2 separate regions of the Homo sapiens genome follow, and region 1 is linked to region 2. The links come from fine-mapping of genetic effects on gene expression. A gene starts in region 2. The other region holds a variant in brackets. All regions are shown on one strand. Distances are from middle to middle.

The links. PIP is the estimated chance that this variant, and not a neighbour inherited with it, causes the effect. A credible set is the group of variants that fine-mapping cannot tell apart.
Region 1: its variant is the best candidate, but not a certain one, in a credible set for the expression of ESPL1 in tibial nerve (GTEx, PIP 0.68).

What each region holds. Positions count from the first base shown.
Region 1 is chr12:53,286,056-53,290,435 of GRCh38, reverse strand. It overlaps ESPL1 (extra spindle pole bodies like 1, separase), which reads right to left. Exons shown (of 31, transcript NM_012291.5): 18 at 3,524-4,380; 19 at 2,095-2,464; 20 at 1,737-1,898; 21 at 1,133-1,346; 22 at 842-1,032; 23 at 224-351; 24 at 1-89. Among named protein-coding and RNA genes, the nearest start is that of PFDN5, 7.3 kb to the left of the region's middle. The variant C/T (reference allele first, on the strand shown) is at 1,763.
Region 2 is chr12:53,266,264-53,270,643 of GRCh38, reverse strand. ESPL1 (extra spindle pole bodies like 1, separase) reads right to left here and starts at 2,345. Exons shown (of 31, transcript NM_012291.5): 1 at 2,267-2,345; 2 at 1,797-1,889; 3 at 559-1,620; 4 at 162-266. The coding sequence starts at 1,877. RefSeq lists enhancers at 1,899-1,978, 2,039-2,408.

The DNA of each region.
Region 1 (4,380 bases), 20 kb before region 2:
CACCATTCTCGCTTGTCAGTACAGCTGCTGTTCTCTTTCTGTGCCTTCTGGATGGCATCAAACTCATTCAGGACTGAACGCAGATGAAGCTTTGGGAGATGGGGCTGTGAGAGCTCTGCTTGTCCACGTGATCACCATCTCTCCCTCCCTCAACACAGAATGTGAGCAGCTTGACCCGAAGCCCAATCCAGCCCAACTTTGCTCCATGGCCCAGGAATCCTACCTTGTTCTGGCCAGTGGGAATCTGCACACTGACTGGGGGACTGTCCTTTTCCAGCCGGGTCAGCAGGAGGGTGTTGCCCACGGTTCCGGGCTGGAGGGTGGCCAGGGCCAACACACACACAGTCACCCCTGACACACAGGATACAGCCAGACTCATTCAGCTGTTAAAGGAATTCCCTTCCCTGTCTTGGGCACTCAATTCCTATCCATCACTCAAGCCAGCATCAAGAAGCCTTCCCTGGTCACTAGAGGTCAAGGTGCTCTCCCTTGCTCTAATAGCTCCCTGTGCACAGAGACCATGACTTGTACTTTGTGTCCCTCACAGCAACTAACAAAGTGAGGCACTCAAATCATGTGAATATGTTTCATGTTAGCACAGAAGACCCCAGTCATCTGAACTCACCTCTGAGGAAAGACACTGAATTTGCTGGTAATTCAAAGTTGAGGTTTAAAAAAAACAACAAACCTTCCTGATGTAAGATGCTAACAGGTGAAAAGGTATGACATAAGGGTCATAAATCTATGTAAACTAACCAATGCCTAAAACTCCTTCACCCAGCTCCCAAGTAAGAAGATGCAGAAGAGGACAGAGGAGCCGGCCAGAAGGCTGCCCGCATACCACTGGGGATCAGAGCCAGGCGCTCCTGGAAACTCTCCTTTTCAGGCTGGGGGAAGTGGCCAGATTCCAAAGCCCTGAAGGAAAAGAGGCGCTGGATGCGGGCCAGGGGGACATCTCCAGGCATCTCCTGAAGGCTCAGCCCCTGCAGCTGGTCTGCTATTTCAAGTGATCCTCGGTGCTTCTGGGCCTTGCTGCAAGCAACACGGGGAGGGGTGAGGTCCCATTCCTTCAAAGTCTGGACCTTCTCTCTAGTCTGCCCCAGCAGGAGTCTTGGGGATGGTCAGCACCCACCTGAGCTGTCTGTGGAGGTGGGTGAGCAGCTGGTGGCGACAGGTGATGGAGACAGACTCGGTGACAAGGAAAGCAGTGGCATAAGGATCCCGGTGGCCCAGGCACAAGGCCAGGAAGCGGCAGAGGTGGGCATAGAGCCCACTAGGAGGACAGTGACTAATGCCCCGGAAAGCAACACTCAGGGAGTCACAGATGGAGTCCAGGGTAGAAAGACCTAGAAGAACGTCAGGACACTTGGTACAGCTGAATTCCTTATTTCATAGTTGATAGGAACTTTCCAAGAAGGAACAGTCCCTATCTCATCTCCCACATGGCAAACAGCAACTACCATTTATGAAGGGCAATGTGCCAAGTGGGGTGCCATGCAACTAACAGGCATCAACTTATTCCACCATGCTCCCTAAACCCCATTTTTACAGAAGGAATAGAAGCTTGGAGAGGTTAAGTGACCTGCACACAGCTCATAGACAGAGTGCTGGGGTTCAAACACAGGTTCAGAGGCTACTGGATCCAGATCCGAACCCAGCCTGGAAAGACAGAGGGGTCAAAAGCCCTAGAGGCTCAGCCCTCTCCAAGTGACCAACATCAGGGGTCGCATATTCACCAGTGGCTACGGGGGCTGAGGGGAGC[C/T]GGAGCCGAGGACCAAGGTCCTTGTCACTCTCCTTGTCTGGGCATGGGCTGGGCAGCTTCTTCTTGCTGGAATCCAGCCTCAGCAGCTCCCATTCTCCAGAAGCTGCCTCAGGGCCCGGAGCTGGAGTCTTCCCACCTGGGGAGAGAGCAGGCCTTTTTCACAGTGCTCCCTCCCCCTGCCATTCTCTTTGTTCTTCCTTCTGTAATCCACTCCCTTAGAGTCAGCAAAAGAACATTCTTCCTGTACTTCCTTGGCAGCACTTACTGCTTGTGCTTTGCCCCAGAACAAACCCCCAAAACATGCACCTTCCACCTCACCCTTGCTGTCCTACCTGAGGCTGAGTCTTCCCCGTCAGAGCCCCTGAGGATCTCAAAGCTCATTTTTCTCCAGTTGTCAGTCAGTTCTTCCTCAGGGATGGTCCTCATGATCTCAGGGCCAGGCCTGGCCTGGTCACTGGCCCTCTGGGGACGCCGCTCCTCACAATGTCTTGATGCCACCTTCTTGGCCCTCCGGCTCCTGCCATTCAGGCCAGGGTTCCCAGGGGCACTACCTGGGGCAACCACGGCATCCGTCTTTAGGCTCAGGCCCTTCCTTGCTCGCCCCCGGCCCCGGGAAGCAGTGCCCCGTCTCTTAGGCTCCTCTGCCAGCCAGGCCTCAGCTGAGACAGGGTCTTCCAAGTCACTGTCATCACTGAAGTTCACCTGAGATCAGAGTGAAAGGGTGAAGGGCTAAGAGGTCTTCAGTGACAAGACACCTTGTGACAGCAGGTGGCGTAGTGGAGGCACCATCAGGCACCATCACACAGGACCCTGGAAGATTTCAGAACTAACTTCTCACATGACAGCCAACACTCTAGATCAGGGGCAGCGACTCTTGGGTGTGGAAGGAGGGAGAAAATGAGGGAACAGAAGGTGGGATGAAAAGGTAAAAGAAACATTAGAGTTAAGGAAAATGTCTCTGTCTGAAACAAAGGGAGACTTGGAAATAGGTCTTGCTGTGAAAGATGTTGGCCTGGCACAGTGGCTCACGTCTGTAATCCCAGCACTTTGGGAGGCTGAGGCAGGCGGATCACCTGAGGTCAGGAGTTTGAGACCAGCCTGGCCATCATGGTAAAACCCCGTCTTTACTAAAAATACATAAATAAGCTGGGTGTGGTGGCACCCGCCTGTAATCCCAGCTACTCGGGAGGCTGAGGCAAAATTGCTTGAACCCGGGAGGTGGAGGTTGCAGTAAGCCGAGATCGCACCATTGTACTCCAGCCTGGGCGACAGAGTGAGAGTCCGTCTCAAAAAAAAAAAGAGGCTGAGCATGGTGGCTCACGCCGGTAATCCCCAGCACTTTGGGAGGCCGAGGCGGGTGGATCACGAAGTCAGGAGATCAAGACCATCCTGGTTAACACAGTGAAACCCCGTCTCTACTGAAAATACAAAAAATTAGCTGGGCATGGTGGCAGGCGCTTGTAGTCCCAGCTACTCGGGAAGCTGAGGCAGGAGAATGGCGTGAACCCAAGAGGCGGAGCTTGCAGTGAGCTGAGATTGCGCCACTGCACTCCAGCCTGGGCGACAGAGCGAGACTCCTTCTCAAAAAAACAACAAAAAACAAAAAAGCAAGATATTGGGGTACTGCAGATAGCAGGAGATTAAAGTTCCACTAGGCCCTGGGGAGCTATTCCACAGGGACACCTGCTCTATAAAACACTCTCCTCCAGGACTAACCCCATCCAACACCATCACCACCACCTAGCAACAGTCCCACCTCACCTTGAGGCGCGTCTGGACTCTCTGTTGTACCCTGGGGGCCTGGGGTACTTCAGGCTTGCTCTCTGTAGGGCAGACTTCCTCAAACACCGTGAAGGGGACATGAGGGCCAGCTTGCCTGATCCGGTCTGGGGGTTTAGGTGTGCAGGGCAGTCCTCTACCTTCCAGACCTTTCTGAGAGGTATTATTGAGGCGCAGGGGAGCAGAGGCTAACTTTTGGCGCCCTCGTCCAGAACGTTTTTGGCCCTGAGTCTTAGAGGGCTCTGAGCCAGGGACACTTTTTATTAATGGTGGCTGCCAGCCCCAGGAGCTTGCAAAAAGTTGGGTAGTACAGCAGCTGAGGCCACCTAGTTTTGTGAGGGCCCAAATCAAGAGCAGGCTGGCTCGCCAGGGCTCTAGGTGGGGTATCCGTGCTGCTACAAACTTCAGCCCTGACTGTAGAACCTTCTGCAGGCTCTCGTTTGATGGCTGGTTCAGGCCCTCCAGTGCCAACAGTGTGTATGCTTGAGCCAAGATCTCATCCAAGAGGCTTGGAACCAAGGAGGGGGGTGTTTTATGATTCAGGGAAGCTTGGAGAGCTTGGGTGAGGCGCTCAGCGGCTTCAGGACAGCCCTTCAGCACGACCTGCAGCAGATCCAGACCCTGGGCTTGGTGGCCCATGGCCAGCCTCACCCCTGCCGTGACCAATACCCAGCGCAGACAGACTGCTGTGAGGACAGGGCTGGCGCAGAGCGAGCAGTCACAGGTGGGTGAATGGGACAGGAAGTTGGGTATGGGCTGGGGCTTGGTTTTCAAGACTGGGGAGGAGTTTGTAGAAGGTGCTATGGGGCCAGGCTCCTTGGCCACAGTGGCCACCAGCT
Region 2 (4,380 bases):
CATGCTGGGTCCAAGATGACCTCCACCGCACTCCACACCCAAAGCCAAGCAACCCCAAAGCTGTTTGAGGGCAGTGGAGCAACCCCAAAGCTGTTTGAGGGCAGTGGAGCAACCCCAAACCCTATGAGCCTAGTCCAGGTACCTTGATTCCCAGACAGTACCTGACAGCCTTGGGCAAAGTCATAAACCACCACAGTGTAGAGGTGAAGTCCCTGAAAGTACATCTGAAGAAAAGACTGCTGTTGCTTGGAGGAGCCCCCATACACCTGAGGAAGGAAGCGGAAGGTTGGTATGAGGAGTAGAGATAAAGAGGGCTCCAAGCTGAAGACTGACCCGGAGTCCTGGAGAGCTGACAGAGCCCAGGGAGCACGAGGAAGGACATCCAGAAGGGCCACTGCCCTCTCAGGATAGACTAGGCTGTTTGCTGGCTCGCTAGGCACTGTCCAGAGAGCAGCTTAACAAGGAGGGAGCCAGGACCTCCAGATCTTGCCAAATACCCTAGGCTGGTAGTGAGTCCACAGACCACGTCCCCACCCTACCTCCAGGTCCTTAACTCACACCATCATCCCGCAGCTGCTGCAGAAGAGAGCAGTACCCTCCAAGAAAAGCAAAGAGGCTCAGAATGGCATCAAGTCTATAGCGCCTCTTGGTGCCTCGTTCCAGGCCTGAAAGGAAGAACTGGCAGCTCTCATACAATGCCCGAAGTGGGGGTGATGGTGCCTCCATACTCTTGCTCAGGACAGCTGATGCCTTGATCAGAAGCTTGGCCACTGCCTGAGGTCCTTCCTCCCCAACCTGCAGCAGCTTAACCCCCAGCTGACATAGCTGAAGGCTAGGGGCTAGATTGGTGTTCCTTAGGTAACTGTGAGCCTTCTCCACTGCGCTGATGGCTTTGTCATGGTGGCGGCTCCAGCAAAAGCGACGGCAGTGTTCCAAGGTGAGCTCCAAGAGGCAGAGGGCCCTCTGGGGAGAAAGAAGCCCAGAAGAGCTCCCTCTCTCACCCACCAAGGCTCTGATCACGTGCCTGGAGAGCAGGTCATCTAGGAAATCAGCATCTGCTTCATTTAGACCATGGCCACTGGCATCAAATAGCTGATGGGCAGCTACCGCTCGACAGGCTGTTGGAGAAGCAAAGTGAGGAACCTCACAAGGGGTACTTTCATCCTCCAAGAGTACTAGGAAGCTCAAGGCCTTCAGCCGAGCTGCAAATGCAGCTCGCCGTTCCAACAGGGCTTCTGCCCCCTTCCAAAGCAGAGAAAAGCTGCCCCGAGCCACGGCCTCATAGTCCTGGGGAGCAGCCTCGCGAGAGCACTGCACCAAGCAGGCATGGAGGGGCTGAGCAAGGCGGAGTGTGGCCTCTGGGCTTCCTTGTGCAGCAGCATTCCGCAGTAAGACAAAGAGAATTCGTTCCAGGTAGAGGGGAGGACGCTGTGGGGTAGACACTAAGTAGCCATCACAGGCCAGCTCTGCCAGCTCCAGCAGGCTCCCCAGATGCCTAGGGCAAGCTAGCTTAGCAGTCAGCTGCTGGTTGCAAGCCCTCAGGATGGCATCACAAGCTTGTCTCCTCTCAGCATCAGATCGGCTGCTGGGAAAACCAGCTGGAGGGTTGGACAGGAACTCCTAGGAGTAGAGAAAGATATGAATGGGGCTAGCAAAGGCAGGAAAGAGGTAGAGAAAGTAACTAGAAATAGGGTTACTCAGAGAGGGTCGCCTACTTATCCATCTCTTCAAAAGGCAAACACAAAACAGCTCAGTTTGGAAAGCCAGGTGTATCCCGAGCCAGGCAGCACCCCCACCTTCAAGGCGGGCAGCAACTCTTCAGCCTCCTTCTGGCTGCTTAGCAGAGTCCCAAAGTTGACTCTTTTGAAGCTCCTCATGACACCGGAGAGCTAGGGAAAAGGAGACCAATTAGAGAAGATTGTTAATGAAGCTAACTGGAGGAAGGGAAGAGGGCTGAAGGTCGTGGAAGGAGGCAAAGAATCACATCAGAAATTTCATCGGGGAGAAAACCCACGCCAGGACGCCGTGCTCCCGTTATAAAAGGACGATTCCGCTCTTCCTTCCTCCGGGCAGATCCCCGACCGCACTACCACACCACTCGCCGCGCTACCCCAGAGGCCTCGGCCCAGCCCTTCAGCGGCCCGGGGCAGTCCCAAGGCCTCCCGACACTCCCTCCAGGAGCCACCCACGCCTCTCCTCGCGTCAGCGCTGGGGATCCCCTTCACTTCAGCACGTACCCACGCTCACGAGTCCCTTCCGGCCTTACCGCCCCAGAGCTCGCCCTCTTTCCTAGGTACAGGACTTAACCGCCTGACCAGTACTCCGCGAGGATCCAAAATGTAACCTTCGTTTTCCGCGCCAGACCCTCCTTTCAAATATCCGCGGCTGCCAATCAGCGGGCGCGGCGCAACGCCGGGCGCGCGGCACGCTGGGAGTTGTAGTTTACCCGCCGCGCTGCGCGCTCCCGCGGCGCCCCGGAGGGTCTTGCTGCTCTGCGCGTTAGGGCCTCTTGGGGGTGCGGGTTTCCCCCTTTTTTCCAGTCAGAGCTCAGTTTCTCAGCTACCTGTCGCTTAGTCGCTATCGGTAATGCCACCCCTTTTCCTCCTTTATCTTCAGAGCTCAGGCAAGAGTTTAAGTTTCAAGAGAAGAGAAATAACAAAAAGAACTTAGGAACTCACGCGGTTTGGGTTACTAGAAAAAAAGGGCTTAGACTTCTACGAATTTTTTTTTTGATAGGGTCTTGCTCTGACACACAGGCTGGAGTGCAGTGGCGTGATCACAGCTCACTGCAGCTTCAAACTCCCGGGCTTAAGTGATCCTCCCACCTCAGCCTCCCAAAGTGCTGACTACGGGCGTGCACCGCCACGCCCAACTTCCTACGAAATTATTTTAAAGATGGTTTTCTAGGGGAACTACAATGAGTACCCGTAGCGACCTCCAGCTCTCTCTCTGCCTTCCAGCCTTACTCCTTCTATTGGTTGTATGAGAAAGACAAGATCTGGTGCTCTTCGATGGGGGAGAGAGGGTAGTGGGGTGGGGTGGGAGTTGTGAGTAGCAGGAAGAACTATGGAAATTCATTCCCTGGGATATTTCACAGTCTTTAATGGCTTATGTTTTTAAGTACTAACCACTTCCCCAAACACAGATTCAGCTGTCTCTTTCCTTCCTCCACCAAAGAATTCAGCTCAAAAGTGGTTATCAGCTTGTCGCTGATGAACTCTACTGGATAACTCATCCTTCTCCATCATCATAGAGCTCTTTTATGAGTTGAGAATCTAGCAGGGAAGATTATTTTTGTAAAAAGAAAGAAAAGAAGGCCGGGCGCGGTGGCTCACGCCTATAATCCCAGCACTTTAGGAGGCCGAGGTGGGTGGATCACTTGAGAACCAGCCTGACCAACATGGTGAAACCCCATCTCTACTAAAAATACAAAAATTAGCTGCTGTGGCATCGGGGGCCTGTAGTCCCAGCTACTTGGGAGGATCGCTTGAACCCGGGAAGCGGAGGTTGCAGTGAGCTGAGATCCCGCCACTGTACTGCAGTCTGGGTGACAGAGCAAGACTCTGTCTCAAAAAAGAAAACCAAAAAAAAGGCCGGGCGCGGTGGCTCACGCCTGTAATCCCAGCACTTTGAGAGACCGAGGCGGGCGGATCACGAGGTCAGGAGATCGAGACAATCCTGGCCAACATGGTGAAACCCCGTCTCTACTAAAAATACAAAAAATTAGCCGGGCGTGGTTGCAGGCTCCTGTAGTCCCAGCTACTCGGGAGGCTGCGCTAGGAGAACGGCGTGAACCCGGGAAGCGGAGCTTGCAGTGAGCCAAGATCGCGCCACTGCACTCCAGCCTGGGCTACAGAGCGAGACGACTCTGTCTCAAAAAAAAAAAAACCAAAAAACAAACAAACAAACAAAAAAAACCCAAAAGAAAATTATTCATCACAGTACTCAATTCCTCTTGCTTACACCTTAGCTATCAGTGTTCATTTACCTATTGTTTAGCAAGCATTCTAGGACTTTTTCCCAACGTATTTTATTATACCTACTTTTTTCTTCTTTTTTTAAGATAGAAACGAGGTCTCACTATGATGCCCAGGTTGGTCTTGAACTCCTGAGCTCAAGTGATCCTCCGGCCTTAGCCTCTCAATGTGCTACAATTACAGGCGTGAGCCACTATGCCCAGCCTTTTTTTTTTTTTTTTTTTGAGACGGAGTTTCGCTCTTGTCACCCAGGCTAGAGTGCAATGGCGTGATCTCAGCTCACTGCAACCTCTGCCTCCGGGTTCAAGTGATTCTCCTGCCTCAGCCTCCCAAGTAGCTGGGATTACAGGCACCCATCACCATGCCCAGCTAATGTTTTGTATTTTTAGTAGGGACGGAGTTT